7 linked regions of the Homo sapiens genome follow. The protein of the gene in region 4 purifies or fractionates together with the protein of the main gene of each other region. This does not show direct contact. Each region holds a gene or a part of one and is shown on either strand. Other genes may lie near its edges. The genes, in order: ZCRB1, ZC3H4, PPP3CB, SRFBP1, SCAF1, RSRC2 and FARS2.

Region 1 (3,380 bases), on a different chromosome or scaffold from region 4:
TCCTCATCACTGAAATATGTGCTTTTCTTTATCCTTGGGCGTCTTGAATCATCTGATGTTGAGGGGACTCCTGAACTGGGTTTCCATTTTTTTTGTTCTTCTTCAATTTTGGCTTGCTGTGATTCAAAAAACAAAACAAAACCAATAACCTGTTTAATATTATTTATGGTTCATTAATTCAAAACATGGCAAAAACATACCACAAATGCCATTACTTCCCACCCTCCCAGTCCATGCAGACAATAAGATCTGCTCCCTTCCCCTGAGTTCTGTCTCATCTCAAAATCTTACACAAAATTATCCTAGGCAATTTCTTAAAAAAATCTTTTCTGTTGGGCTATATTCACTTTGAGCAAATAGTTCTGCTCATTTCTTTAATGAAAAAAGATTAAGATAGTAAGTGTTGTGGGGCCCTTAAAATCTAGGAAGAACCAATGGGAACTTTTCATTCACACTGGCTAAGTACCTCAGAGAAACAGCTTGTCTCCTAAGGCTTAGGAGGTTAGGGGGAAAAAGAGAGGTTGCCATGAGGTGATCAATGAAGTAAGCAAGCACTATAAACCAAGTCAACTATTGTATGATGCCTTTTAAAAGAACAATTTAATACCTGGAATGCTATGGCCTGACTGAGGCTGTCAAGAGCAGGATCCTCCCCTTCATCTTCACTTTCTTCTACTTCCTCACTTAAATAAAGAAAAACAAATTGGAATGTAACCAACCAATAATCAAAAGCAACCAACCAAAAGACAAAAGCAACATGATGATGTATTTAGTAAGAATAATATACATACATTTCTTCTTCTGGTTCAGGAGCTTTCTTTTTTTTCTTTTTTTCTTTCTTCTTTGGAGGCTCACGTTCTCCGAGCATATTTTTCGGACAGGCATAACTTAAGTGTCCACTTTCCTTTTGTTTCCCATTAAAAAGGAAAGGAAAAATACCATATTTGATGTTATTTATAAAAACTTGCCTGGTACCTTATTACTAAAAAGTTTTCAAATTTAAAAAGGAATATTCCCATACTGGGACTATACAGAAGACATTAATGATAAAACCCAGTACTTTAATATTTAGAAGGTGATATTATAACTCTCAGTTATTTTAACATTTAGGACTATTTAGTAGTTTTACTAAGAGTAGTGGTAGTAGTCTTCTTTCAAACATTTAAATCTCAAAATTCAAGATATAAAACAGTTTGGTCGGGCGCGGTGGCTCACGCCTGTAATCCTAGCACTTTGGGAAGCCGAGGTGGGTGGATCACCTGAGGTCTGGAGTTTGAGACCAGACTAACCAAAATGGTGAAATCCCGTCTCTACTAAAAAAAAAAAAAAAAAAAAAAAAAAAAAAAAAATTAGTTGGGCATAAGTGGCACACACCTGTAGTCCCAGCTACTCAGGAGGCTGAGGTAGGAGAATTGCTTAAACCCAGGAGGTGGAGGTTGCAGTGAGCTGAGATCATTCCGTTGCACTCCAGCCTGGGTGACAAGAGCAAAACTCCGTCTCAAAAAAAAAAAATCAAAATTTAAATGGATCATTTACCCTAAATGTAAACATCTTAAGTTATTGATAAAACGAGGATAAAACTATTCCTGTTAATTTCCAAGATGTTGCTTAATACTCTGTTGGGCTGGGCAGGCTGAGGCAGGTGGGTCACCTTAGGAAGTGAGTTCAAGACCCGCCTGGCCAACATGGGGAAACCCTGTCTCTACTAAATATACAAAAATTAGCTGGGCTTGGTGGCATATGCCTGTAATCCCAGCTACTCAGGAGACTGAGGCACAAGAATTGATCGAACGCGGGAGGCAGAGACTGCAGTGAGCTGAGATTGTGCCACCGCACTCCAGCCTAGGCAACAGAGCAAGACCCTGTCTCAAAAAACAAACAAAAAACCAAAAAACAAATGGAAAATTTCTTCCTCACTTTTCCTATGAATTACTTCCGTTTTTTCCCTTTTATATCCTGACTACACTTGCACTATCCAATTACAGTAGTCACTAGCCAGCCAATGTGGCTACTGAGAACTTGTCTGAATTGATACGTACTGTAAAGGTAAAATACACATTGGATTTCTGAAGACTTAGTAACATACGTGGCTTGCATTATATTCTCATTTGACAATGCTGGACTAGGCTATTATTCCTACTTAGCTAGAACATTGATTTGTAAAACATAAGAGCTCAACTATAATCTGGACATCAGCTCACTACAATTCCATTTAAGAGGTTATGTCAGGGTAGGGTGTGGGGACTGAGCCAAGGTTAGAACAATAGAAGGGAACAATAATCATGCTTTTCCAGTATATTTGACAGAGCAGACAGACTGTGCACTTTGTATACCTAGGACATAGCCCAACTTAAAGAGGTTACTTACTGTTAATGAGCTGCTGAGAAAATAGAGACACATATCTGAAACTGTTTTGGAATAATATTATAGCAAAAAAAAATTAACATATCCCATACTAAAAAAGGATTTAATGAAATAACTTGAGAAAAACCAGGCTAGGTCAATATAAAAAAGTTTTTTTTGGAGGGAGGGAAATTAAATATAAAAATGTAAAAAATATAACAACTCTATGGATCCATAAACCAAAAGGAACCGATTAACAGATTCATCTAGGATTTCTCAGATAATTTAATATTTACTGTGAATATGAAGATATATACTAATCTGAATATAACTACCTTCCCTCCCTCCCTTTCTTTCTTTTACAAAACTCAAAACTTTGGAAAAGTTTCTAAAGTGTTTACTTAAGAGGTTTTAGAATCATAGGAATTGACAGAATCAGTATGTATCCAAGCAACTGCTTGCTCACTCTTTCTATTCATCCATCCATCAGTCTGTTTATTTAGTTATCTTTTTTGTCGGGGGTATGGGGAGTGACAGTGGGGTAGAGGACCTCAAGCCATTTCCTTGCATCTTCCATGTGATTTTGTAGCCAGGACGGTATCTTTCAGTGATTCTCTCCCCAGTTCCCCATTACTACCTCTGGACTCTGTTTTTTAAGTATTTTATTTTATGTTTATTTTTATTTTTGAGACAGAGTCTCCCTCTGTTGCCCAGGCTGGAGTGCAGTGGAGTAATCTCGGCTCACTGCAACCTCCACCTCCTGGGTTCAAGCGAGTCTCCTGCCTCAGCCTTCCAAGTAGCTGGGATTACAGGCACCTGCCACCATGCCTGGCTAATTTTTTTTTTGTATTTTTAGTAGAAACTCAGTTTCACTATGTTGGTCAGTCTGCTTTTGAACTCCAGACCTCAAGTGATCCGTCCACCTCAGCATCCCAAAATGCTAGGATTACAGGCGTGAGCCACTGTGCCCGGCCTGTTTCTTAAGTATTTTTATGGTCATTTTACAAACTTACACCTGTGAGAACCAGACTAAAATT
Region 2 (4,626 bases), on a different chromosome or scaffold from region 4:
GACAATTTCAACAAGGCAGCCCAGACAACCAAGTGAGACCCCACAAAAAATAAAAAAATTAACCAGGCATGCCTGTAGTTCCAGCTACTCAGGAGGCAGAGGTGAGAAGATCCCTTGAGCCCAGAAGTTTAAGGTTGCAGTGAGCTATGATCAGCCACTGTACTCTAGCCTGGGTGACAGACAGAGCAAGATCCTGTCTCAAAAGGAAAAGAAAATTTCAACAGGGTTGCCCAGCTCTCTGAAGTAAAGGAGCTGGGATTTGAACCCAGGCCCTAGCTGACCTCCATGAGGCATGTTCTCGAGCCTCCTCCATGCGGCCTTAGCAAGGCCCTGTATGTCTCAGAGAAAGATGCTGACTGGTCCACGTCACGGCTGACTGGCTTCCACTGTTCACAAATGACCTTTTTGGGAAATTGGCAAGAGAATGAAATGTTCTCAAGTAGCCAGTAGGCAGAGGTTAGATACTCAGCCACTGTCGCTCTCATTTCAAGCAGCAATTTAAATTATTTGTTCAGTTTGTATACCATTTCTTCCCCCAGAAAATCCCATAAGAGAAAAGCAAATCATTTTTTTTTTTTTTTTTTTTTTTTTGAGGCAGAGTCTCACTCTGTCGCCCAGGCTGGAGTACAGTGGTGCAATCTCAGCTCACTGCAAGCTCTGTCTCCTGGGGTCGCACCATTCTTCTGCTTCAGCATCCTGAGTAGCTGGGACTACAGGCACCCGCCACCACTCCCGGCCAAGTTTTTGTGTTTTTAGTAGAGACAGGATTTCACCGTCTTAGCCAGGATGGTCTCCATCTCCTGACCTCGTGATCCGCCTGCCTCGGCCTCTCAAAGTGCTGGGATTACAGGTGTGAGCCACCGCGCCCGGCCGCAAATCATCTTATGATTACTTTACCCAGTATTCGTTGGCACGTGGGTGTCCGGGTTTGGATGAGAAATGTTTTGTCTTGTTTGTTTATTTATTTATTTATTTATTTATTTATTTATTGAGACGGAGTCTTGCTCTGTCGCCTAGGCTGGAGTGCAGTGGGGCAATCTCGGTTCACTGCAACTTCCACCTCTCTGGTTCAAGCGATTCTCCTGTCTCAGCCTCCCGAGTAGCTGGGATTACAGGCATGTGCCACCTTGCCCGGCTGATTTTTGTATTTTTAGTAGAGACAGGGTTTCACGATGTTGGCCAGGCTGGCCTCGAACTCCTGACCTCAGGTGACCCGCCCGCCTTGGCCTCCCACAGTGCTAGGGTTACAGGCGAGAGCCACCGTGCCCGGCTGGTTGAGAAATGTTTTAAAGTTAGTAGGTCTTTAAAGCTGTCCCAGGTATCCCATGACCCAGCATCATCCATCACAACAAATGATTCATTGTCCAATACCATAGTTGAGATTGATCTACTGGTGTAGGTTTGGCCTTCAAACCTGAGGGAGGCAGGAAATGGAGGGAACATTGCGTGCTTTTTATGAACTAGAGCTGGAGGCATTTTAAAGATCTGCTAAAGTACTTGTATGTGTGTCTGTGTGTCTAGCTGTATTTTGCATTGTCCTGTTTTTCTATAATTCGGATTTTTTAAAATTAGTGGGCTTTATTGTTTGTTTGTTTGTTTATTGAGATGGGATCTCACTCTGTTGCCCAGGCTGGAGTGCAGTGGTGTGATCTCACCTCACTGCAGCCTCGAGCTCCCTGGGCTCAGGTGATCTTCCTGCCTCAGCCTCCTAAGTAGCTGGAACCATGGGCCATAACGCCAAGGCTAATTTTTGTACTTTTGGTAGAGATGGGGTTTCAAAATGTTGCCCAGGCTGGTCTCAAATTCCTGGGGTCAAATGATCTGCCCACCTCGGCCTCCCAAAGTGCGGGGATTGCAGACATGAGCCACCATGCGCAGCCGACTTTTTTATGCGTTCATTCATTCATTTATTTAGAGATGGAGTCTCGCTCTGTCGCCCAAGCTGGAGTGCAGTGGCACAATCTCGGCTCACTGCAACCTCCGCCTCCCTGGTTCAAGCGATTCTCCTGCCTCAGCCTCTCAAGTAGCTGGGATTACAGGCGCCCACCACCACACCTGGCAAATTTTTTTTTTTTGTATTTTTAGTAGAGACGGGGTTTCACTATGTTGGCCAGGCTGGTCTCGAACTCCTGACTTTGTGATCTGCCTGCCTTTGCCTCCGAAAGTGCTGGGATTACAGGCGTGAGCTACCACGCTTGGCCCAACTTTTTTTTTTTAATTTTAATTATTTTTTGAGACAGAGTCTCGCTCTGTCGCCCAGGCTGGAGTGCAGTGGCGCAATCTTGCCTCACCGCATCCTCTGCCTCCCGGGTTCAAGTGATTCTCACACCTCAGTCTCCCGAGTAGCTGGGATTAGAGGCGCCCATCACCATGCCCGGCTAATTCATTTTGTATTTTTAGTAGAGACTGGGTTTCACCATGTTGGCCAGGCTGGTCTGGAACTCCTGACCTCAAGAGATCTGCCTGCCTGGGCCTCCCACAGTGCTGGGATTACAGGTGTGAGCTACTGTGCCCGGACTTTATTTTAATTTTTTTGAGTTGTTGTTTCGCTGTGTCACCCTGGTTGGAGTGCAGTGGTGCAGTCTCTGCTCACTACAACCTCTGCCTCGCGGGTTCAAGCAATTCTCCTGCCTCAGCCTCTCAAGTAGCTGGGATTACAGGTGCCTGCCCCACACTCGGCTATTTTGTTGTTGTTGTTGTTGTTGCATTTTTGCATTTTTAGTAGAGATCGCATTTCGCGTCTGCATCTCCTGACCTTGTGATCTGCCCGCCTCGGCCTCCCAAAGTGCTGGGATTACAGGCATGAGCCACCGCGCCCAGCCCCCTGACTTTCTTTTTTAGAGCTGTTTTAAGTTTATTCAAAATTGAGCAGGTAGTAGTAGAGTTCCCTTCTCCCCTCTGCCTGCCCCCTTCCCTGCCTCCAGTTTCCCATTACCAATGTCTTGCATTGTTGTGGTAACTTTGTTAGAATTGATGAGCCGGTATTGATACATTGTTATTACTTAGGGTTGTATAGTTCTCTGGGTTTTGCCCAATACACACTTTATTGTTACATATTCGTCGTTACTCCATTGTCTGGATATACCAGTTTGTTATCCATTTACCTGTTGAAGGATGTCTTGGTTGCTTCCGTTTTTATGAGTATCTTTAACTTCTTCTAGTACCACTTGGCATTACCACACTTTGGAAAGCATCATTTGAGATGGCTGTCCAGCCTGGCTGCCAAGCAGGCCATTTATTGAATTCCAGGGCCCTAGGAAAATTGTGACCAAGCAGCCCCCGCCTGCTTCCCAGGCCCCTCCACGTGCGCTTGCTCTGCATCCTTGGGAAATGCTCCCTTCTTCTCCCCTTTGTTCATCAGGGATCGGGGGTCTGTGGTTCTGTTTTCTTTCTAGTTCTGGCCCTTTATGAAGAACAGAAACACTTGGGCCCGCTGCTACTCCCACTCCCTGGTACGAGAACCAGTCCCCAGAGGGGCTGGAGACCAGCAGTGCAACCCTGGGACAGTAGTGACACCCAGACAGACATGTTCGTTTAGGGAACCCTGGGTATCTTGGTAGTCTGCACCCACGGCTGTGGGATCCGGCTCACCTCTTTTCCCCATCTCTGGGACGCAGTCCCACCAGCAGTACCCCCCATCGCATGCCACGCCCCTGCCCAAGAAGGCATACTCCAAGATGGACAGCAAGAGTTATGGCATGTACGAGGACTACGAGAATGAGCAGTATGGGGAATATGAGGGCGACGAGGAGGAGGACATGGGCAAGGAGGACTATGACGACTTCACCAAAGAGCTGAACCAGTACCGGCGTGCCAAGGAGGGCAGCAGCCGCGGCCGAGGTGAGCCCTGCCCTTACAGTTTCTCCTCTGGGGCATCGGAGCCACCCGGGCCAACCCCGGTGGCCTGGTCTCACAGAACCTCAAGTTTGGTCACTTAGGGTTGGGATAAGTGTACAAAGAAGGGCCAGGCTCTGCATGTGCATGGCACAGGAGACCGGAGAGATCACCCGCTGGGCTGTGGTTGGGGTGGTACCAGGCTGGTGTGAGGCAGGGAGAAGGCCAGCGTGCCCGAAAGGTCACTTCCTGGTCAGCTGTGGGGGGAGAAGGGAACAGCTTCTCTTTCACCTGGGCCATGGTCACTGACAGCTGGCTGCCACACCCCACAGCAGTGCTCCCCCATTCTCCCAGCCCCATCACCTGACAAAGTGTGACTGCAGTCCTTGCCACTGCCACACCTCTGAACCTTGAACCTGTGTCCTTTGGGAGGAAGGTGGAGGAGGCTTGAGCACCAGAGACACGGTAGCCCTGACTGGCCTCTTAGAACACATCTCTGCCGGCGCAGTGGCCCATGCCTGTAATCCCAGCACTTTGGGAGGCCGAGGCTGTCGGATCACCTAAGGTCAGGAGTTCGAGACCAGCCTGACCAACAACAGCAACCAAAAAGAACCATTGAACCATCTCCTGCCAGAAAGACTGCCCAGCCTGAGAATGGCTTCTGGAATCTTCCAGTGCAGGGGTTCTCAGACTTGTGAGCCCTGCCTGAGGCCCAGCTTGTTGAGTAGCTGTTCATTCATTCTTTTTTTTTTTTTTTTTTTTTTTTTTGAGACGGAGTCTTGCTCTGTCGCC
Region 3 (4,626 bases), on a different chromosome or scaffold from region 4:
AATGGTCTAGGAAGGGCTTGTGTAGAAGCAAAGGGGCCTTGAAGGATGGTTAGGATTAAAATAGAGGATTGGGACCATTTATTTGTGCAGTGTTTATTGAGTACCAGCTTTGTACCAGGCATTGTGCTAGGCATTGATGATACAGAAGTGAATAGGATATTAAGTAAGATAGATTCTCTTGTAGTGCCGGCATTCTAGTGGGGGAGACACTATTATAAATAAATAATGTAATGAATTTGGTACAAAGCGCTACTGGAGCTGTAAAGAAGGGATTGGCTATCTTACTTTGAGGGAAAGCGTCACTGAGAGGATAATGTTTCGAGGTAGTCCTTGAAGGATGAGTAGAATTTCACCAGAAAGTGGGGCTAGAGTAGGTGTAACAGAAGCAGAAAGGCATGGAGTTTGAAAAAAGCATGAAATGTATGGCAAAAGTATGTGAAGTGCTTGGCAAGGAGTGACAGGAATGAAGTTAGAAAAGATCTTTTGTATTACAAGTTGAGGAGCTAAAACTTAAGCTGTTAAGCAGTATAGCAGTATATAGTACCTGGATGATTAAAAGCACAAGCTCTGGAGTCAGACTGCCTGGGTTTGAATCCTAGCTCTACTACTTAATAACCTTCTTGCCATGGACAAGATACTTAACATCTCCAAGCCTTAATTTTCTTATCTGTAAAGTAGAGCTAATAAAATCTTATTATAGGGTTTTTGGAGAATTAATAGAGACCGTGCATATAAAGTAGGTACCACAGTTCCTGGCCTGGCACATGGTAAGTACTCAACCAATGGTAACCATCACCATTATTATTATTATTATTATTATTGAAGGTTTTAAAGTAGAATAGTGACCCAGTATCTTGTTTTTTGATGGCTAATTCTGGCCATATTGTGTGCAACAAATTATTGGAGGGCAAGAAGCTTAAAGCAGGTTGTCTAATTAGAAGATTAATGGAGTAGTCCAAGTGAGGGATGACCAAGGCATGAAAAACTAGATACGACACAAATTCCTACTAATATTAGAAGGTAAGTATATTGGATGAGTGATTGAGTATGGAAGTGAAATAGGTGAGCAACAGTTTTTTAGGAAACAATAATCAGAATAATTTTGCTTTAGGGCTAGATTAAATTGGGCAATTGTAGTTAGATGCAAAGATTGGAATGATATGTAAAAGACTGAGAATGGTTAAATTGAGAAGAACCTTGAAAATAAGATCCAAAGTTTTCTTTTTCTTTATTCTTTAGTCATTAAGAAACTACCCCAAGTTTTTGAGTAGGTTAATTTACTACTTTGTTCAGTCAAAGAGGAAGAAGAGATTTTTCTAGTAAATGATAAGAACTTGAACTAGTATTGCAACAGTGGAGATTTAAGAAAATTGAATTTGAAGAATCAATAGGACTTAGAGTTCAGAAAGAGAACAATGACATTAAGTGTGAGTGATAGAGAATGGTGATACCTTAACAGGTGTAAGCCAGGAAGGGGAGCCAATTTTGAGGGAAAGGTATATTTAAAAACCACCACAAATTAAAAGAGACCCAATGGATACCTTGAAATTTTGAAGACAATGCTGTTGGATTTATTGAATCTTTCCTTAAAGCATGTGGCCAATCCATACTTCTACTCCTGGCAAGCAAATGGTTATATCATTCTTCATGATGAGGCTTTTTTTTTTTTTTTTTTTTAACCCTCAAGACAGGATCTTGCTCTGTCACCCAGGCTGTAGTGCAGCGCCATGATCATAGCTCACTGCAGGTTCAAACTTCTGGGCTCAAGCGATCCCCCAACTCAGCCTCCCAAGTAGCTGGGACTACAGGCACACACCACCATGCCTGGCTAATTTTGTTTATTTTTTATGGAGACAGAGGTCTCACTATGTTGCCCAGATTGGTCTCAAATTCCTGGGCTCCAGTGACTGTCCTGCCTTGGCCTCCCAAAGTGCTGCAGTTACAGGTGTGAGCCACCACGCCCAGCCATGATCAGCCTTTTGATGTCTCCTTTTGTCAAAAGAAAATTGTCCTTGTGTTGGTATAAAGACATATGCTACAGGAGCAGCATTCTGAAGACTTCAATTTCAACTATGGCTCTACTTCTTACTAGTGAAACCCCTGGAGAAGCAACTTAATGTCTCTGAACCTGTTATCTATCATTTGTGAAATGGGAGATAAAACTTGCCTGACCCTAACCCCAGCACTTTGGGAGGTGGAGGCGGGCGGATCACTTGAGGTCATATGTTCGAGACCAGCCTGGCCAACATGGTGAAACCCCGTCTCTATTAAAAATATACTAATTAGCCGGGTGTGATGGTGGGCGCCTGTAATCCCAGCTACTCGAGAGGCTGAGGTAGGGAGAATCGCTTGAACCTGGGAGGCAGGGGTTGCCATGAGCTGAGATCTCACCATTGCACTCCAACTGGGGCAACAGAGCGAGACTCTGTGGAAAAAAAAAAAACAAAAACTTGCCTGACCAAACTCAAAGGATGTCCCTGGGAATCATGTAGGATTATGTATGTGAAAGTACTTGGTCAACTATGAATAAAACACTATAAATATATTGTCATTGCTACATAAATTAGTGTCGTTAAACAAGTATTTTGGAAACTATAATCATTAATTCTGTAAACATTTCTTAATACCTATGTTTTTCCTGTTTGTTTTTTTTTTTTTTTTTTTTGGTTTTGGTTTTTTTTTGAGATGGAGTCTCACTCTGTTGCCCTGGCTGGAGTACAGTGGCATGATCTCGGCTCACTGCAACCTCTGCCTCCCAGGTTCAAGCAACTCTCCTGCCTCAGCCTCCCAAGTAGCTGGGATTATAGGCATCTGCCACCACGCCCCGCTAATTTTTGTATTTTTAGTAGAGACGGGATTTCGCCATGTTGGCCAGGCTGTTCTCAAACTCCTGACCTCAAGCGATATACCCACCTTGACCTCCCAAAGTACTGGGATTACAGGCATGAGCCACTGCACCTGGCCAGTTCTTAAGTTTTAGATAGGTTTTGATAATGGTGGAACTTAGAATGGATAAGACTTGTGGGCCAGAAACTTGAGCCTATGATGACTAGTTTTCTTTTGAGAGAAAGTCTCACTCTCGCCCAGGCGGGAGTACAGTGGCCCAATCCCGGCTTACTACAACCTCTGCTTCCAAGGTTCAAGCAATTCTCGTGCCTCAGCCTCCCCAGTAGTTAGGATTATAGGAGCCCGACACCATGCCCAGCTAATTTTTGTATTTTTAGTACAGATGGGTTTCACCATGTTGGCCAGGCTGGTCTGAAACTCCTGACCTCAGGTAATCCACCCGCCTTGGCCTCCCAAAATGCTAGGATTACAGATTTAAGCCACGGCACCCAGCCTATGATTAGTTTAATAGATAGCAGGGACAAGGGTAAACTAGCCAGAAGGCATGAATCTCAAAGGAGGAGGCATTTTTTTTCCCTTAGTGGAGAGATGATGTTGGAAGTGCTAATGCGGAGCTAAGAGAATGCTGAAGCCTCCACTGAGATTAGTGGAATGCGGAAAAATGAGCACCATCCACTTTGAAAAAAGAATTTGATAAGTGTTGTCCTTCAGGAGACCCAAGATGTAATTAAACTAGAGAGATGAAGACAGTATTCTGTGTAGAGCTAAAGAAGAGAGAGGCCAAGCGCGGTGGCTCACGCCTGTAATCCCAGCACTTTGGGAGGCTGAGGTGGGTGGATCACCTGAGGTCAGGAGTTCAAGACCAGCCTGACCAACATGGAGAAACCCAGTCTCTACTAAAAATACAAAATTAGCCAGGCGTGGTGGTGCATGCCTGTAATCCCAGCTACTTGGGAGGCTGAGGCAGGAGAATCACTTGAACCTGGGAGGCAGACGTTGCGGTGAGCTGAGATTGCACCATCGCACGCCAGCCTGGGCAACAAGAGCAAAACTCCGTCTCAGAAGAAAAAAAAAAAAAAAAAAAAAACCAGTCTGGCCAACATAGTGAAACCCCATCTCTACTAAAACTACAAAAAATTGGCTGGGCGTGGTGGCTCACGCCTGTAATCCCAGCACTTTGGAAGGCCGAGGCAGGCGGATCACGAGGTTAAGGGTTCGAGTCCAGCCTGGCCAACATGGTGAAACCCCGTCTCTACTAAAAATACAAAGATTAGCCGGGCATGGTGGTGCACGCCTGTAATCCCAGCTGCTCAGGAGGCTGAGGCAGGAGAATCGCTTGAACCTGGGAGGCAGAGGTTGCAGTGAGCTCATGTTGCGCCACTGCATTCTAGCCTGGGCAACAGAGCAAGACTGCATCTGAAAAAAAAAAATACACACACACACACACACACACACACACACACACACACACACAATTAGCCAGGTGTGGTGGTGTGTGCCTGTAGTCTCAGCTACTTGGGAGGCTGAGGCAGGAGAATTGCTTGAACCTGGGAGGTGGGGGTTTCAGTGAGCTGAGATCCTGCCACTGCATTCCAGCCCCGGCGACGATGCGAGACTCTGCCAAGAAAACAACAAAAAAAGAGATTGTGTGTAGGGTTTGTGGGATAGATTAAAACAAAATCTTATAATAGGAATTCTGAAGGCCTCAATGAAAAGGATGGAGGGAGAACAGCAAGAAGGAAATTGTATGAGGGAAAGAAATACAGAGAAAAATTTAGA
Region 4 (4,626 bases):
TGAGTTTGGACGTCTCTTTCTAAAAGCTTAGTTCTCCACACAACTGAAGAGGGAGTGGTCCTAGTGAACCATGTAATGAGGATGTTTATTTAGTCTCTAATGAAAATGACTCAATCATGTTTAAAAATCAGTGGGAAACAAATGCATTAAAAGGAAGAGAATGACAATGCTATGGTAAAGGGATAATCCATAGTAGAGGTTCTAGGAAGGCAGAAGAGAATGGGCTCTAAAAGACAGTTAAAAGATAAACTCAGATATGTGTAGTGGTATTTCTTATATTGTAACTTTATTCGTAAAGGAAGATGGGTCATGGAAGTACATTTGCATTCATGGTAGTAGAAAAATGATGGTTCCCAACTGATAATTATTTTCTCCACACGATTGAAAGAGAGAAAGGAGGACGGAGACTAGAGGATTTAGGAGAGTAGGCAAAAGCTTAAAACAGGCATTGTAGAGTGAACTGAACAGAAAAATACAGGATGGCTAGGAAGAATGGGGGTCCACTTGAGGTTAATTATGATGAATTTATAGTAGACAGAATGTTACAAGTATTTGCTGTTGGCATATGACAATGAAGAACTCAGAGTGTTTTTTTCATTCAGGACTACGGTTTCCTCACCAGAGGGGCAGGAGTTTAAGAAATTGGCAGATGTTATCATGTATCTAAACTGCATAAAAAGAGGAACATTAAGTGTAGGAGTCAGTGGATTGGTGGTCCTAATGAAGTCAAAGATGGTTGTGGTGGGTGGAGTTGAACAAGCAAGCTGATAGAGGTTGTGATCACAGTGTGGAATATTTGAATTAATGGTTTTAGAAATTGAATATTATGAGTGATGACAAGGTTGACAGTGTGGCCATGGAAGTGGATGGCTGAGATAGAATAGATTAGGTCTTTAGAAAATAAGTAAAGAAGTGAAGATATAATTATCAGATGGGCTATTCAAGTGGACATGCAAGTTACACAGAATGATGGCAGAACTTAGGGTGTAAAGAAATTGTAAGTTGGTTGCTAATATCTTCAGTGAATAAGGGAGTGAATGACATGAAGGGTAAGAGAAGATATTAATTAAATGGAAGAGCCTTAAAGAAACAGGATGATGTTGATAATGTTATTTTGGCAAGAAGAATTTGAGGAATTTTTTGTGCCAGGCACTCTTGCAGGGCAAAGAAAACACTATATAAATATTACAAGACTCCTGTTTTCTAGGAGCTTGCTGTCTATAGAAAAAGACAGCCACATGAGCCATTAGTAACAGTGCAGTGAGGTAGATGCTTTAATGACAGAATCTGTATAGTGGGGACCCCAGGGATGGAGTGGTTATCCTTAACTGAAGAAGTCATTGAAGGTATCACTGGAATGACTATATCTGAACCTGAATTTTATATAGTTCCTAAAGTGAAGAAGGGGAAGAAGGACATTCCAGGAGTAATTTTTAAGATGTATGCCTCGTAACTGATAGATGAAATATAAACTCCGTAATTACATGCCATTGCACTGAAAGCTGTTATAATGTGTATTTTTTTTATAACTATAATTTCCATTTTTTGGCCTATAGCTCTGCTTTTTGTTCTTAGAGTTAAACATTGTTCTCCAGTAGGGTGATTTAAATTATGTATTTGTATGTGTGTGCATGTGTGTGTGGGGGGGGGGCATGTATGTTTACATGCACATATGCTTGCACACAATGCCCTTGTGTTTGTGGATCTTCTTTTAAAATTATACTTGAAATAATTTGTTACTAAAAATAATGAAAGATTTGTTTTATAAATATGTAAAATAAATTGCTAATTAAAAGCTAATTTGCTAATTAAAATAGTCATTCAACAAATTAAATTCCTACCATTATGAGTGAGGCTTTGTTTTAACGGTGGGAATACAAAGATGAATATGACAGGCTGTGATTTCAGGGAACTCACTGTTTATTATATTCCAAGCCCAGCAAGATATAAGTGTAACATTAAAATACTTATCTCGGGTAATACTGTGACTTTTTAAAAAATTATAACTTGTTTTTCTTAAGCTCTCAGACACATTTTTAGACTGTTGATTTATTCCTTCACTATTTATGGAAGAGGTTTGATTTCATCAAGCTACGAATATAGTTAGACAATAAAAGTAGTTAAAGTGGTAGACTAAGTCTCAAATATTAAGACTCAAAATAAAGTGTGTTTGTTCCTGAAGTAAGTGCCTTTCTTCTAATTATTGCTTTATTCTTCAAAGGTTGTGAAGATGAGAAAAGAAGTGAAGAGAATTCGAGTTTTAGTTATCCGAAAACTTGTCAGGAGTGTTGGCCGACTGAAGTCAAAAAAGTTAGTCATTTAAAGTAATGATCTTGTGACTAATAAAATGTCAAAAGTTGTTTTTATTTGATACTTTAAAATGTTTAGGGTGGGATATAGAGAAGTAATTAAATGTCTTATACACCATTTTTGTTTTGTATGCGGAGATGATGTGAGTGAGATAGAATGTGCTGTGTCAGCATGCCCTTCTATGGTTTGGACCATCATTGCTCAAGATACAGGATGAATTTTTTTGCTGCTTTTGCAAAACTCTCTTTTGGTCTTTTTAGAATGAAATTCCCTTGGGCTTGTGTGTTTTGTGTTATCAGAAGTTATTTTAAGATACTGATACAGCTTAACAAATCTAGTAATACCTTAAGAATCAGTTTTGAAGATTTTATATCACATTTTTTCTTGAATTGCTAAGTAATTTGAAATCTTCAGTACCTTATGAAAGTGTTTATTAGAACATTGTGTTCCATGTAATTTTTTGGAAAAATACAATATTTTGTATTTTCAGTATCACTAGTGTTAGTGAAAAAGTATTTTATTTATAGTTCTTTTTATGATGTAAGCATGAATACTTAGTCTTCAAGTATGTTTTGTTCCTGATTAATTTCCTATTCTTTCATAAATATGTCAGAATATAGCCCTTCTTTATTTTTTCCTTAAATGCCAGAGAGCAAATTTTCATTTGATAAAATTATAGTCAAACTCTAATTGTAAATTATGACATTTATATTACATTAAATACAATGTACGATTGATTGATTTAAAAAAGTGTTATTAAGGAACTAGAGAAGGCAAACTATCAAAAGTAATAGTCATTAATACAATGGCAAGACAGTACTTATTTTTGCCATTTTCCAACATATGGGTTTGGTTAGTAAATTGAGGTGTGTTTTGGGAGTGGGGGAAATGGACAGTGTAGGATAGTGGCGTGTTTGTTATTTAGAGATTTATTACGCTTTTCTAAAAAGAAATGAAGTGATTATCCATTACACTATAAGTCTAAAATTAATGCTTTGCCTGGCTACATATCGTAATGTATTTTTTGCAGGGGTACTGAAGATGCACTGTTAAAAAACCAAAGACGGGCGCAAAGATTGCTTGAAGAAATCCATGCCATGAAGGTAAGGACTTGTGTGGGTGTGTATGTGTGTATGTTTCTGAGTATCCTGTTATCCTGCATTTTGTTTGTGTGTGGTATTGCTTATTTGAATATTCCCGAGAGTTGCGTAAGACATCTTGTATCAGTCTGTTTGGTGAAGAATGTAGCACATTTAGAAAATTGTAACATTTAAGCTTGCATTTTTCTGTTTTTGACTGAATTTGTTAAAGTGCTAGGCTAATTTGAGTCAAAATTGTGCCAAACTAAATTCATCTATGTTTAATAATGCCTCCTGCCTCAGGTTTTTATTTTTACTGTAACTTTAGCACGAAGTCAGTTCAAGAATTAAAGTCTTCATGCTATTTGGGAATGTGGATGGTGATATTGGTGGCTGACATCATGCTTTCCTTGTTGCCAGCTCAATAAATTTTTATGTATTGGTATCGGCATTTTATTCAGTTCTGTAGTAACTTCAAATAAAATTAGTGTTAGACCAATGTGATCCCATATTTTTGTTTTTTTTTTCAGTCAGACTCTTCACTAGCATAATTTTTAGGTCTTCTTGCTGCTCTTACTTTGAGGAAACTTTCATTTACCAAATGACATGACATTAAATGTCTGGGAGACTGTTTTACTGTAGAACTTAAAAACAACATTTGGTCCCAGCAATTTTCTTAATTGCAGGGTCATTTTGCATGCATGTTTGCCTATTATATTTTGGTATAACTTTCAAGTTTTGAATTAAGTAAAAGAGAAATAAAACTCTCTAACTATTTTAATTGAGTTAAGTTATCAAAGATTCTCAGCCTTTCTTCCTTTTAAACGGATAGTAAAGTGTTTAATAGGACAAAGTTATCCCAGTTAATCTGAATAAAAACATCTAGGAAACGACTCTTTGATATGAAGTATATTTGTTTCTTGTGTTCTTCCTTCCCTCTGCTGCACACTATTATAAAATTCATGGAATCCATCTGATATAACTTTTATTTCTCAAGGTTATAATTCCCTTTTTATTCAGTCCTTCAGGAAAAAAAAGTCTTCTGTATTTGACTGTCAGTGATCATTTGTGTCTCTGTGGTTTGCAGATTATTTAGTTTTTTCATATACCTTTTTAAAATGATATTCCTATGAGAAATAAAATCTTTAGAGATTTTGTCTTGAGAATAGCAATAAAATAGGAAGTTACAATTTATCTCTTTCACTTTCTCTTAACCAAGGTTCTTACTAAATTACAT
Region 5 (4,593 bases), on a different chromosome or scaffold from region 4:
GGTGGACAGTGGCTGGGTGTTTTCCCTGACTCCTGTCCCCACTTCCCCTGCAGGTTGTGCCCACGTGCCTCAGGGCCTTGGTAGAAATGGCCCGGGTAGGGGGTGCCTCCTCCCTGGAGAATACTGTGGACCTGCACATTTCCAACAGCCACCCACTCTCCCTCACCTCCGACCAGTACAAGGCCTACCTGCAGGACTTGGTGGAGGGCATGGATTTCCAGGGCCCTGGGGAGAGCTGAGCCCTCGCTCCTCATGGTGTGCCTCCAACCCCCCTGTTCCCCACCACCTCAACCAATAAACTGGTTCCTGCTATGATCACTTGTGCGTGTCTGGTGTTGGGTGCCCTCTGACCCAATATGGTTGTTATTCCCGCTCAGGGTCTCAGTTTACCCATCTGTGCAGCTATATACAACTCAGGTGCTCAATGCATGAAGACCAAGCACTGCAGGGGGCAGCTGACACCTCCTCACTTCTGCCCAGGGACCTGGTGGGTGATGGCTGTCCCCGTGTTGTAGACCAAGACACAGGCTGGGAGAGGCGCAAAGGTCACAGAGTAGGAAACACAAAGACTAGCCAGAACCCAGGCCCCCTGCCTTGCCTATGAACAGTTTGGGCAAGTGGTCCTTCTCCTTCCAGGCCTCAGGCTCCCCTCCACGTGGGGCTGGAGGGGTCTTGGTAAAGGGGCTCTGCGGCCACCCTGGAGCCTGCAAAGCCTGCCTGCCTGGTGACCCTGGGCACTGTCACCTCTCCTGGTTGGGCCGCAGTTCTGGGTGATGAAACTGGCAGAAGCCAGCGCAGCCCTGACTCACCCTTCGGCCCTTGCTGCTCTGTGCCTCAGTTTCCCTCTCAGGACAGTTGATGAGATCACCCCAGCTTCACGGGGCTGCTGAAAAGAGAAGCCAACTCAATGGGGAACACAGATCCTGCTCTGGGAGCAATTCCAAGGCAGGCACATGGCACCCAGGAGCCGAGCTGGGAAGATGCTGATCAGGTGGGGTCCGGCCCCTGCCTCCCTGTGAGCAGCTCGCTCCCAGCCAGAGACTGTGCTAAGTGCTCCACCTGTGTCTTGTTCAATCATCACAACACCCACTACACAGATAAGAAAACTGAGGCCCAGGGGAGGCAGCTGCCCCAAGTCACAGTCTGGTCTCTGTCTCCCATCCTCAGCCTCCTGGGGGTCCCTCCCCAACCCTCTGGCAAATTTGTCTCCGAAAACAAAGGGTTAGAACCATGGGGCTCAGGGGTAATGTTTCATGAAATCTTTAATGAAATTGGGGAGAGGGGCACAAACAGAAGGGAGGGGCACTGGGGACAGGCTTGGGGGCAAGGGAGGTGGACACGGGGCAGGGCAGGGCAGGGGGCTCTCCTCTTCCCTGCAGCAACCCTCCCCCAGTCATCCCACTGACGGGGGAGGGAGGTGGGGAGGTGGAGCCATAAATACGTCCAGAGTTTCAAAGAGGTGAGGGGCGAAGAGCTGGCCAGGGCTCTCAGAGAGGGGGCAGGGGCAGGCCCGGGCCACCCTTGTCTGGGGGCCCTGGCTCCTTGGGCGGCCGTGGGGGCCCTGGGGGGTCCCCTGGCTTGCGACCGTGCTTGCGGAAGTAGCGGTAGCGCTGGACGTAGGCCCGCACCAGGTTGCTCACCTTCACTGGGTTGATTTCCCCACTTTTGCTGTGGCAGATCTGGGGGGCCGGGGACAGTTGGAGTCACCACCAGGCTCCCGGGGCCCCATCCACCCAGGACTGTTGGGCGCAGCTTGGAACTGCGGTAGGAGGAGCTTCCCCAATAACCAGGCCAAAGTCCCTCTGTCCCCCTAGACGATGGGTGCCCCAGGGCCAGCGGAACAGGCCCAGGTGGCCTTGAGAAAATCCTGTCACCCTCCTCACCTCCCAGACTGACCTCCTCCCCGTCTCCCATCCGCGTCCATCTGTCTGCACACATCTGTCCCTCCAGCTCGTTCTCTCCCCGGCCTGTGTCTGCCCCTCTCTCCGGGTGCCCACCTTGTGGACGGCCTTCCTCAGGATGTCCTTGTACTCCTCCTTGGTGATGTCCTTCTTCTGATAGTATGGCTTGATGGCCAGCTTCACCTCCTCCACCGCCCGCTCCTGCGTGTGCAGCTTCTTCAGATACTGGTGGGGTGGCGACAGCGGGGGAAGACACAGCAAGGGCCAGTGAGTACCTGCGGAACCTCCACCTCCACTCGCCTCTGCTGCCAGCCTAACCTCTCTGGCCGTCCAGCTGCTCTCAGGCTGGAAGTCCTGCTGAGGGTCTGTCCCATGCGCCCTCTGCTGCAGGTGCCCGGGACCAAAGGCCAGGCCTGGGCCTCTGCATGTCACTGAACATCTCCTCCAGGCCGAACCCTGGGCTGCTCCAGGCCTGGCCGGGACCAGGACATGTGTGTCGCCTGCCCTCACAAAGTTCAGTCTGATGAGAAGACAGGCATTGGCCAAGAAATTGCAGCTGGTTTTGAATCAGACTCTAGAGGCGGGGCTGTAGAAAACTGCACAGGGCTTTTCACCGCGGGAGCGGGGAGGACTCAGTTTAGGTTTTTACAGTACTGCTCTGGTCACCCAGGGGATGGAGGGGGTGGCTAGGGGTGAGGGGCACTGGGGAGTGGGGGTGGGGACTGACCTTGAGCCCATTTGTATCAGAAGCCTGGTCTGCCACTCCCTGTCTCTGACCCCTGGGATGCTCAGCCAAACCTTTTTGTGGCTCCTTTTTTGTTTCTTTGTTTTTGAGACAGGGTCTCTCATTGTCATGCAGGCTGGAGTGCAGTGGCACAATCACTGCTCACTGTACCCCTGGTCTCCTGGGCTAAAGCGATCTTCCCACCTCAGCCTCCTGAATAGCTGGGACTAGATGTGCCACCCCCACGCCTGGCTAATTCTTGTACTTTTTGTGGCGACTAGGTCTCACTATGTTGCCCAAGCTGATCTTGAACTCCTGGGCTCAAGCGATTCACCCGCCTCGGCCTTGCGAAGTGTTGGAATTACAGGCATGAGCCACCGTGCCTGGCCACCTTTGTGGCTCATTTGTAAAACGGGGACAGCACCTATGGGCAGTACTACAGCGACACACATGGAGGACATGGCACAGGCTGGGTACAGAGCAAAGACTCAATCCAGGGGAGCTGTGCCTGTTCCAAGGGGGATGGCCATGGGATGAAAAGGGGAGGACGCAACAGGGACAGGGCAGAGAGCCTCCGAGGCAAGGCTCTTCCCGCCTGTGGCCAGCAAGCTAGGAGATCCCGCAGCCGCAGGCTCGGGGCAGCAGCTGCAGCCCTGGCCTCAGGCAGAATCCTTGCAAAAGCAGACAGGAAACCTCTAGCCAGAGAGCCACGTGGGACCAGAGAAGAACAGGCCTTCTGCAGGCACAAGGGACAGTCCCTTGGCACCACCCTTGGAGAAGCTGCCCTCCCAAGCCAGGTGACTATCAAAGTAGGGGCAGGTAAACTGAGTCCTGGGAAGGGCAGGGCACAATGGCTAGCCGACTCCAGGAGCAACATCAGTGACACTGTCTGACGAGCTACTGAGCTGTTAGGGAACTCTGTGGCCAGAAGAGACACAGGCTGCCCTGGAGGGACTTCTCAGGCTTGCCTGGCCCCACAGGATGTGGGTCTCTAGAGAGACGCTGCTCCCCAACACCCATCTCGGATGGGCAAAGCGGGGCAAAGGGCAGAGCACAGACCAGGGCAGAGCAAGGGCCACTGTAGACCAGGGGGTCCTCACCGTCCGAGTCCTGCAGCGCAAGGCACAAGCTACGGACAAGTGACCGACTAAACTGCAGCCCCGCCTCTGCGGCTCACACAGGATGTTTAATGGGGTTTATACAGCTTTATCTGGCACGGTACACAGCTGTGTAAGGGTGGCCAACGTCACCGTCTGGCTATGGGCTACTAGACTGTAAGAAAACACATCTAGGCTGGGTGCAGTGGCTCATGCCTATAATCCCAGCACTTTGGGAGGCTGAGGTGGGAGAATCACTTGAGCTCAGGAATTTGAGACCAGCCTGGGCAACATAGTGAGACCCCAACTCTACAAAAAATTAAGAAATGAGCTGGGCATGGTGGCGCGTGCCTGTAGTCCTAGCTACACAGGATGCTGACGTAGGAGGATCCCTTGAGCCCGAGAGATCAAGGCTGAGGCTACAGTGAGCTGTGACTGTGCCACTGCATGCCAGCTTGGGTGACAAAGCGAGACCCTGTCTCAAAAACCAACCAACCAAGGCCGGGCACGGTGGCTCACACCTGTAATCCCTGCACTTTGGGAGGCCGAGGCTGGCAGATCACCTGAGGTCAGGAGTCAAGACCAGCCTGGCCAACGTGGTGAAATGCCGTCTCTACTAAAAATACAAAAATTAGCTGGGTGTGGTGGCGGGTGCCTGTCATCCCAGCTACTCGGGAGGCTGAGGTAGGAGAATCACTTGAACCCTGGAGGCGGAGGCTGCAGTGAGCCGAGATGGCACCATTGCACTCCAGACCAGGTGACAGAGCAAGACTCCATCTCAAAGAAAAACAAAAACAAAAACCCACATCTAGACCTGACCAAGAGAGAAACAGCTCCAGAGCCCAGGAGTAGGAGCCGGCCAGAGCAGCTG
Region 6 (4,626 bases), on a different chromosome or scaffold from region 4:
AGTAAGCTGAGATCACACCACTGCACTCCAGCCTAGGCAACAAGACTTCATCTCAAAAAAAAAAAAAGAGGAAAAGGAAAAAAAAAAATTGTTGAAATTTACATAAAAGAAATATAACAAGCTATAATTTTATTCCCTTTTATGAAGCACATATGCATGGAAGGCATAACATAGACTTGACTTTGTCCTTGAGAATAAAAGTTTGTAAATTAGCAGTAACAATAAAATGTAGGTCGCAGGCTTGGCAAGGTGGCTCATGCCTGTAATCCTAGCACTTTGGGAGGCCAAGGTGGGAAGACTGCTTGAGGCCAGCAGTTCGAGACCAGCTTGGCCAACATGGCAAAACCCGTCTCTATTAAAAAGAAAACAAAAATTAGCTGGGTGTGGTGATGCGCATCAGTAATCCCAGCTTCTTGGGAGGCTGAGGCACGAGAATTGCCTGAACCCAGAAGGCAGAGGTTGCAGTGAGCCAAGATCATGCTCCTGCACTCCAGCCTGGGCAACAGAGCAAGACTCCGTCTCAAAAATAAATAAATAAATAAATAAATAAATAAATAAATAAATAAATAAATAAAATAAAATAAAAATAAAAAATAAAAAAAGTAGGTCACAGATCTGAAATGTATTTCCTAAACAGTTTTAAATCCTGACCTTTAAGCCAAAAAAGAAACCAATATAAAAGGTCTATACATGGTAGTTTCTTAAGAAAAAAATTCTCCAGATTTCAAGGTAGTAAATAATCTCATATTCTGAAATTAAAGAACTACATTTAAAACTTTATCTGAAAGATCACCAAGTAATCTATATATCAATGACATTTTGGATGCTATTAACGGCTTCACTTTTAAAAAAATCCAAAAACACAAACAGAATAGACTTATGGCATTCAAGTAAATAAGAGCTTAAAAAATATTTGTCAGAGTTAATGAAATTACAATCTAGCATATACTAAATCCAATTTTATAGTAAATTATTTCCATACTAGTTTCAGAAAGAAGATACGTGTGACTACAACTGGTTGCATTAAAATGGCCATTGAAGATTTGGAATTAATACCATTCACTAAGGTGAATGGAAAGAAGGGGTGAGCTCACACTTTTGCTGCTGTTCAGCTGCAGTTTCTGTCAGGCTGGGTTCCCAGGGAAGCACATCAGGTTACACTGTGTTACCAGCCTGGGCAACATAGGGAGACCCCGTCTTCTCTACAAAAAATACAAAAATTAGCCAGGCATGCCTGTGGTCCCAACTACTTGAGAGGCTGAGGTGGGAGGATTGCTTGGGCCCAGGAATTCAAGTATGCAGTGAGCCGTCATCATGTGCCACTGCACTCCAGCCTGGGTGGGACCCTGTCTCAAAAAACAAAACACCTTAATTTTGTAACGAGAGAAAAAAAAATCAAAACCTAAAAAGTCTATTTTTCAAAATATGGGAAATACTGCAAACAAGTGCTTGGATTTTATTTTACTTTTTGCCTCTCTATGAGGCAGTTCTTTGAATAGTTTTGCAGATTTCAATATATAGTCGTGCTGTGTGTGGTTTCACCATTACTCATCTTTGAAACAGCAGAAAATTTATTTTTGTGTGTGTGTGTGTGTGTGTTTTTTTTTTTTGAGACTGAGTCTCGCTCTATCGCCCAGGCTGGAGTGCAGTGGTGCGATCTTGGCTTACTGCAACCTCTGCCTCATGGGTTCAAGCGATTCTCGTGCCTCAGCCTCCAGAGTAGCTGGGATTACAGGCGCCTGCCACCACGCCCAGCTAATTTTTGTATTTTTAGTAGAGATGGGGTTTCACCATGTTGGCCAGGCTGGTCTCCCAACTCCTGACCTCAAGTGATCCGCCCGCCTCGGCCTCCCAAAATGCCGGGATTACAGGTGTGACCGATTGCACCCGGCCGAAACAGCAGAAAATTAAAAAAAAAAAAAAAAAGTTCTCCCATAGTTACCAGGAATAAAACTTACAAGATCAAATAAATTAGCTTATAATGTATTATCTGTTAATTGCCATCTTCAAAATAATAATATTGACAAAATTTTACTTACTGTTTCAGGTATTTTGTCTATTTGAGGGAGAAAAACAAAAAGTAAAGGAAAAGTCATCTTAGATGAGAAAATAATAGTTCTTGAACCAGATTTAAGACTCAAAAAAAAAAAGTTTCAAATGCAAACTGAAAATATTTGGGAGTCTAAATTTGAGAAAAATGAAATCAGTTAAATCATGAAGGAAAAAACAGAAATTGTAGACATCTCAATCTTATAGTTGTGCAAATGTTTAGGATGAGAATTAAACTATTTACATAGTTCTAGATCACAAATATGCCACCATATTACTAAAGTATGTGAATCATTCTCTTACTGAAAGAATTCATCTTATCCACACAATTGAGCATTTATTTAAAGGCGAACTGGAACAAATGAATTAAGAAATATACACACCTTCTAGCTAAAGCTTCCTGTGCATCCATTGCTGTGTTTCTGCCTCTGAAGGGAGGTGGACTTGGAGTCCGGCTTAAACTTCTGCTAAATCTTCTCGGCTTTTCAATTCTCTTCTTTCTATCTCTGTAGTAAATCGTATTTCATATGTCAAATTATGGCCAAGTCATAACTATTTTGTTAATAAGAAATCAATTAGTTCAAACAAAAATCCCAACGATACAAAAACATTTAGTTTGAGATGCAAAAGATTTAAAACATCAGTGTTACAGCTGAACTCATTGGAAATAACATTTGTTTCCAACTCCCTCATCCCTTTTTAAGAGACAGGGTCTCACCATGTTGCCCAGGCTGGCCTCCAGTGATCCTCCTGCCTTAGCCTCCAGAGTACACAGGTCTACAAGCATGCCCCACCGCATCTGGCTGTTTCCAATCTTTTGCATAGTATATCCAATGTTGGAAAAGCTAGCCTTATACATTAGTCATTTTGTGCTCTTGTAGGTCAATATGTATACCACAGGAATCATTCCTACATATTTTCATCTACAGTGAATTTGTAGATGTTTTTCAAAAATAAAAAGTTATTAACCACTAAAAATTAGGTCTGGCTGGGTGCTGTGGCTCATGCCTGTAATCCCAGAACTTTGGGAAGCTCAGGCGGACAGATGACCTGAGGTCAGGAGTTCGAGACCTGCCTGGCCAACATGGTGAAACCCCGTCTCTACAAAAACACAAAATTTAGCCGTGCGTGATGCTGGGTGCCTGTAATCCCAGCTACTCGGGAGGCTGAGGCAGGAAAATCGCTTGAACCCAGGAGGCAGAGGTTGCAGTGAGCCAAGATTGTGCCATCGCACTCCAGCCTGGGCGACAGAGTGAGACTCTGTCTCAAAACAAACAAAAAAACTAGATGTCAGTGACCAAAAAAGCACTTAAAAAAAAATTTCTTAATTGGTAAGGTTCAAAGTAGTAAACTACTATAAACTAGAACCACTGAGTAAAAATTCATATTGATTTAAAGATCAAGTGATAAATCATAAAAACCAAGTTACTGTATTAAGTACAGGTCCCTTTTTAAATGTATGTTTCAATCTTTCATACACTGACCTAAGTTGCAATCAATTTACAAAAGTCAGTATACTACTGTCATATGTAAACAAGCAGAGAATAACGCATTCATTGAAGAATATTTATAATTAGTTTTCCTCCTGTGCTCTTTATTGTACACCTCCTATCTCAACAAAGCCTCCTCCCACCAATCAAGATAAATCTAAATTGTGTTCATTTACAAACAAAATCTGAGGTAGTTTGTACAATACAGTGGGTTAAGCACATGCATGGAATTTGCATTTAGATATATCTGAAACCTGCTCCTGGCTCTAGCACTTAATAATGATACTGTTTTGGAATTCTGGGGCAAATTTCTTAAACGTCTTTAAGCACGACACACTTACCTTTCAACATGGTTCTTCTGAGAACTAGATGAGCTAATAACATGCAAGGAGTTCTAGCATACAGCATATGGTAAGTATGCAAAAGGAGATTTTAGTTATTTGTGATAATAAAATTAATACAACAAATCCAGTGTTGAACACAACTGAATTTGTTTGTTACGACAGGATTCACTCCTGTCACCCAGACTGGAGTGCAACAGCATGATCTTGGCTCACTGCAACCTCTGCCTTCTGGGCTCAAGTGATTATCCCACCTCAGCCTCCCAAGTAGCTGGGATCATAGGTGTGGGTCATCACCCCAGGCTAATTTTCATATCTTTTGTAGACATGGGGTTTCACCATATTGCCCAGGCTGGTCTTGAACTCCTGGGCTCAAAAAATCTGCTCGCCTCGTTGTGATTACAGGTGTAAACCACGACACCTAGCCAACAACTGCATTTTAATAGGCCTATTCATACCTGCACTTCGCAAGAGATTTATCAATCACGAGAATACCTGTGAATGCTATTCAAGTGGTTAGGTGTGTTCTTCATACGTTAGGTAATGACTAAAATAATTTTACCATAATCTATAAATAGAATTGTGACTCACAATTTTAATACTCTCTTACTGAGGAAGATAAACAGACTCTCTGAGGGTCCTATTAAATTTTATTCAGGATGATGGTCACCTACCGACTCCTACTCCTTGTCCTACTCCTGCTTCTAGTCCTATGCCTGTGTCTTGATCTTGAGCGGGAACGAGAC
Region 7 (4,626 bases), on a different chromosome or scaffold from region 4:
GTTTTTAAAAGTCCTCATAAGGTAAAACCAAAAATATATGCATATATACATAGAAAGGTTCAAGATGCAGATGGGCACACACACAAAATCAGTGTGCTTCACTATAACAATAACAAAATACACTCATAAAAATCATACCTGTCCTTAAAGTTGATGATATGGTTTGGCTGTGTCCCCGCCCAAATCTCAACTTCAATTGTATCTCCCAGAATTCCCACATGTTGTGGGAGCAACTCAGGTGGAGGTAATGGAATCACAGGGGCCGGTCTTTCCTGTGCTATTCTCGTGATAGTGATTAAGTCTCACAAGATCTGATGGGTTTATCAGGGGTTTCTGATTTTGCTTCTTCATCATTTTCTCTTGCTGCTGCCATGTAAGAAGTGCCTTTCGCCCACCGCCATGATTCTGAGGCCTCCCCAGCCATGTGGAACTGTACGTCCAATTAAACCTCTTTTTCTTCCCAGTCTGGGGTATATCTTTATCAGCAGCATGAAAATGGACTAATACAGTTGAAAAGGTCTGTACACAAATATAAATAAGTATAACTCCAGAGAGAGATGAGCCCTTCTAGGGTAGACAGACACTGATGGCTGCTGTCGCCACTGGGGCGTGAGTAGGCAGAAGAGCTAGCCTGCTACTGGCAAAGACATTTTGTTGGAATAAGAAGAATGAGCCACACTTGCGTCAGCCAAGCATGGGCTGGCATGGCAGATTGGAAAATGGAGAAACAGAGCTAACCCTCACTGCCAGCCAATTCTCCTTCATAATATTTCTGCTTACAAACGCTGGTGGTGGAAGAAGCTGGTAAGTGGATGGAAAGCAGAAAGAGATCCTGTGATCTCACATGGTTAGATCCCAAACTCTGCTGCAGGGCTAGATCTCACCATCAAGAGGAAAGCAGATGTGAAATTCAACTCAACTCCTGATTAGAACAAAAAGATCTGGCCTAGTCACCTTAGCAGCCAGAAGGTAGAAAGCATAAGACTTTCTGGGGATAAATTTTATCTACCTCAGTCTTTGTCCATTCAAACACAATTAAAAAAAAAACAAAAAGACAAGTGAAGCAGCAGGAAATATGTAAGCCATGATTAGGAAGGGAAAACAACCACAACAAAAGAACACTAGATAATCAAATGGTTGGAATTAACAGACAAGTACTTTAAAATAACCATTATGAGGCCGGGCGCAGTGGTTCATACCTGTAATCCCAGCACTTCGGGAGGCCAAGATGGGCAGATCACCTGAGGTCAGGAGTTTGAGACCAGCCTGGCCAACATGGTGAAACCCTGTATCTACTAAAAATACAAAAGTTAGCCAGGCATGGCAGTGTATGCCTGTAATCCCAGCTACTCGGGAGGCTGAGGTGGGAGAATTGCTTGAATCCAGGAGGCAGAGGTTGCAGTGAGCTGAGATCATGCCATTGCACTCCAGCCTGGGGAACAGAGCAAGTCTCCGTCTCAAAATAAATAAATAAAATAAAATAAAATAAAATAAAATAACCATTATGAATATGTGAAAGAATTTAAGGAAGAATGGATGAAATGGATGAAAAAATCAAGCATTTCAGTAGATAAATGAAAACTCTAAAAAGGAAGCAAATGCAAATTCTAGAATTGATAAATACAGTTATCTGGGGAATGATTAATTCACTGGATGGGCTTAATGGTTACTTGGACAAAACAGGAAAAAAAAAAAGATGAGCAACCCAAAGAGAAGACAATAAAAATTATCAAAAATAAAGCACACAGGAAAAGAAAATCGTTAATTAAAAAAACCTTTCATCAGAGTTCTATGGCATAGGATCAAATGGTCTAACATATATGCAGCTTCATTCTGAAAAATGAATGGAGTAGAATTGTTGGAAAAGATACTAGATGAGGGCTGGGCGCAGTGGCTCACTCCTGTAATCCCAGCACTTCGGGAGGCCAAGGCGGGCGAATCACAAGGTCAGGAGTTTGAGACCAGCCTGGCCAACATGGTGAAACCCCGTCTCTACTAAAAATACACAAAATTAGCTGGGCGTAGTGGTGGGCGCCTGTAATCCCAGCTGCTCAGGAGGCTGAGGCAGGAGAATTGCTTGAACCCAGGAGGCGCAGGTTGCAGTGAGCCAAGATCGCGCACTCCAGCCCAGGCGACAGAGTGAGATTCTGTCTAAAAAAAAAAAAAAAAAAAAGTACAAAATTGGTTCTCTGCTTAGACTAATAATATTGACAAATATCTTTTCTCTTGCATAAAATTTCTGAAGGTTTATGAACCCCTTGTGTGTTTATGGACCTCTATTTAGGAACTTCTTTTTTTTTGAGACAGAGTTTCGCTATTTTTGCCCAGGCTGGAGTGCAATGGCACGATCTCAGCTGACTGCAACCTCTGCCTCCTGGGTTCAAGTGATTCTCCTGCCTCAGTCTCCCAAGTAGCTGGGACTACAGGTGCGTGCCACCATGCCCAGCTAATTTTTGTATTTTTAGTAGAGACAGGGTTTCACCATGTTGACTAGGCTGGTCTCGAACTCTTGACCTCAGGTGATCCACCCGTCTTGGCCTCCCAAAGTGCTGAGATTAAAGGCATGAGCCACCATGCCTGGCCAGAACTTCTTTACAAATTCACATTATTTAAAATTCATGCAGCCATAAAAAAGAATGAGTTCACGTCCTTTGCAGAAACATGGATGAAGCTGGAAACCATCATTCTCAGCAAACTAACAGAGAAACAGAAAACCAGACACCACATGTTCTCACTCATAAGTTGGAGTTGAACAATGAGAACACATGGACACAGGGAGGGGAACATCACACACCGGGGCCTGTTGCGGGGTGGCAGGCAAGGGGAGGCAGAGCATTAGGACAAATACCTAATGCATGTGGGGCTTAAAACCTAGATGACGGGTTGATAGGCACAGCAAACCACCATGGCACACGTATACCTATGCAACAAACCTGCACGTTCTGCACATGTATCCCAGAACTTAAAGTAAAATGAAAATAAAATAAAATAAATAAAATAAAATTCAGTGGCTTTCAAGTACATGATCCTGTCGATCCTTGACAGCCATTTTTATTATTATCTATTCAGTTCTTGCAAGTCATCTTACCTGAAACTTCACCTTCTGATTAATGTTGGATACACAGAACTGCTTCAGGAAGCGCTCGTCCTCACACCAGAAGAGACGGATATCAGGGATGTCGTAGAGGATCATGGCTAGCCTTTCTAATCCTAGGCCAAAAGCCCAGCCGATTCGGTCTTGAGCACCAGCTGTGATTAGGAAACAAAATAGTTGTTTTTAAAAAGTATCGAGATTGGATAGGTTCATACCACTCCCTGACAGTTATCAGTGACACTAATTAGATGCCTACCAGCGGGCAAAGGCACTGGGCAGCCGCTACAAAGACATCCATGAGGGTGCCCAATCTTCCACGCTTTCTCATCTCCATATTCCGGACTGCCCTCATGAACGGATTCTGAAGTCATACTGTCTGGAGTACTGTCTTTCATTTCTGATTACATTCTAGGCTTTCTGAAGCACTGGTTCCTGAACTGAGTTATGATTTTTCTGTAGTCTTTGCTTGCTCTGATTCAAACATTTAGCCCACTGAATATAGGTTACAGAGTGGAAAGAAAAGACGGTCTCTGTCCTTAAGTGTAGTAGATAATGAGATACATTCAAAACATGCCATAGTGGCCATAACATGTTTAGAACGAACTTACATGAAGAAAGTACATACGTCATGCCTTTAAGAACCTCAGTTTTATTAAACACCATAATGCTTATTCTTACCAACAGCCACTTCAGCATTGCAGAGAACACAAGCAGGCCCAGACGAGGGGTATAACTAGCACCACCTACTCCAAAGGTACAGTGTCCTGCTCAGATTGTGTCAGTGCCATAAATTAGAAGGGTTTACTTCACAAACTGAGGCAGTGTAAAAGGGAAGATAGAAACTGCAGAATGAAGGCAGGCAAAGGAGCAGTTCACACTGCAGGAAAGCTTATGAAATGAGCTCATGAAAGGATATAATTCCAACTGGACACTAACAGATGAGTAGGATCCTGTGGTAGGCTGAGATGGCCTCGGAGACTCCCACCCCGCATGCACATGCCTTGTGTAAACTCCTCCCGTTGAGTATGGGTGGGATCTAGGAACACAATGGGAATTTAAGCCTGTGACTGCTTTACTTTTTATCTAGGACTCCATCTTGGCCGATTGGAGAGAGATCCACCTCCTGGCTGTGAAGAGGCCACATGGCTCGGGCCCTTGAGAAGTCCTAAAGGAGCTCAGAGAGGCACCAGCAGCCAGGGAGAAAATGGGAACTTCACTTCTACAGTGGGACGGAACAAATTCTCCCAATAGCTGGAGTGAGCTGATGATAGCACCCCAGCTTCAGAGTACACAGCCCTGCCTCTGCCTTGATTTCAACCTGGTAAGATCCTGATCAGGGGACCCTATCAATCCATAGCCAGGCTCCTCATGCAAGGATATTATGATATAGTCAATTCGTGCTATGTTAGGCCACTAAGTGTAATTTGTTACCCAGAAAAAAAAAAAAAAGCAAACAAACAAACATAACTAATCCAGATTCAAAATGTAGAGAAAAGTGATAGGAAATTCCAGACTGAAGGAGTTTCTTCAGT

The links.
Region 1: the proteins of SRFBP1 (region 4) and ZCRB1 purify together in Homo sapiens (co-immunoprecipitation; one large-scale study listed by IntAct). This does not show direct contact.
Region 2: the proteins of SRFBP1 (region 4) and ZC3H4 purify together in Homo sapiens (co-immunoprecipitation; one large-scale study listed by IntAct). This does not show direct contact.
Region 3: the proteins of SRFBP1 (region 4) and PPP3CB purify together in Homo sapiens (co-immunoprecipitation; one large-scale study listed by IntAct). This does not show direct contact.
Region 5: the proteins of SRFBP1 (region 4) and SCAF1 purify together in Homo sapiens (co-immunoprecipitation; one large-scale study listed by IntAct). This does not show direct contact.
Region 6: the proteins of SRFBP1 (region 4) and RSRC2 purify together in Homo sapiens (co-immunoprecipitation; one large-scale study listed by IntAct). This does not show direct contact.
Region 7: the proteins of SRFBP1 (region 4) and FARS2 purify together in Homo sapiens (co-immunoprecipitation; one large-scale study listed by IntAct). This does not show direct contact.

What each region holds. Positions count from the first base shown.
Region 1 is NC_000012.12:42,313,083-42,316,462, forward strand, and holds part of ZCRB1 (zinc finger CCHC-type and RNA-binding motif-containing protein 1), read right to left. Parts: intron 905-3,380; coding exon 792-904; intron 684-791; coding exon 608-683; intron 117-607; coding exon 1-116.
Region 2 is NC_000019.10:47,089,181-47,093,806, reverse strand, and holds part of ZC3H4 (zinc finger CCCH domain-containing protein 4), read left to right. Parts: intron 1-3,617; coding exon 3,618-3,840; intron 3,841-4,626. UniProt on the Homo sapiens protein: RNA-binding protein that suppresses transcription of long non-coding RNAs (lncRNAs). LncRNAs are defined as transcripts more than 200 nucleotides that are not translated into protein.
Region 3 is NC_000010.11:73,485,604-73,490,229, reverse strand, and holds part of PPP3CB (serine/threonine-protein phosphatase 2B catalytic subunit beta isoform), read left to right. Parts: intron 1-4,626. UniProt on the Homo sapiens protein: Calcium-dependent, calmodulin-stimulated protein phosphatase which plays an essential role in the transduction of intracellular Ca(2+)-mediated signals.
Region 4 is NC_000005.10:121,971,975-121,976,600, forward strand, and holds part of SRFBP1 (serum response factor-binding protein 1), read left to right. Parts: intron 1-2,221; coding exon 2,222-2,310; intron 2,311-3,340; coding exon 3,341-3,413; intron 3,414-4,626. UniProt on the Homo sapiens protein: May be involved in regulating transcriptional activation of cardiac genes during the aging process. May play a role in biosynthesis and/or processing of SLC2A4 in adipose cells.
Region 5 is NC_000019.10:49,655,294-49,659,886, reverse strand, and holds the end of SCAF1 (splicing factor, arginine/serine-rich 19), read right to left. Parts: intron 2,127-4,593; coding exon 1,998-2,126; intron 1,680-1,997; coding exon 1,488-1,679; 3' UTR 1,245-1,487; downstream 1-1,244. Other genes in the region: IRF3 (interferon regulatory factor 3), read left to right, coding at 54-298.
Region 6 is NC_000012.12:122,512,673-122,517,298, forward strand, and holds part of RSRC2 (arginine/serine-rich coiled-coil protein 2), read right to left. Parts: coding exon 4,555-4,626; intron 2,556-4,554; coding exon 2,433-2,555; intron 2,057-2,432; coding exon of another isoform or gene 2,044-2,056; exon of another isoform or gene 2,040-2,043; intron 1,203-2,039; exon of another isoform or gene 1,095-1,202; intron 1-1,094.
Region 7 is NC_000006.12:5,543,803-5,548,428, reverse strand, and holds part of FARS2 (phenylalanine--tRNA ligase, mitochondrial), read right to left. Parts: intron 3,250-4,626; coding exon 3,089-3,249; intron 1-3,088. UniProt on the Homo sapiens protein: Is responsible for the charging of tRNA(Phe) with phenylalanine in mitochondrial translation.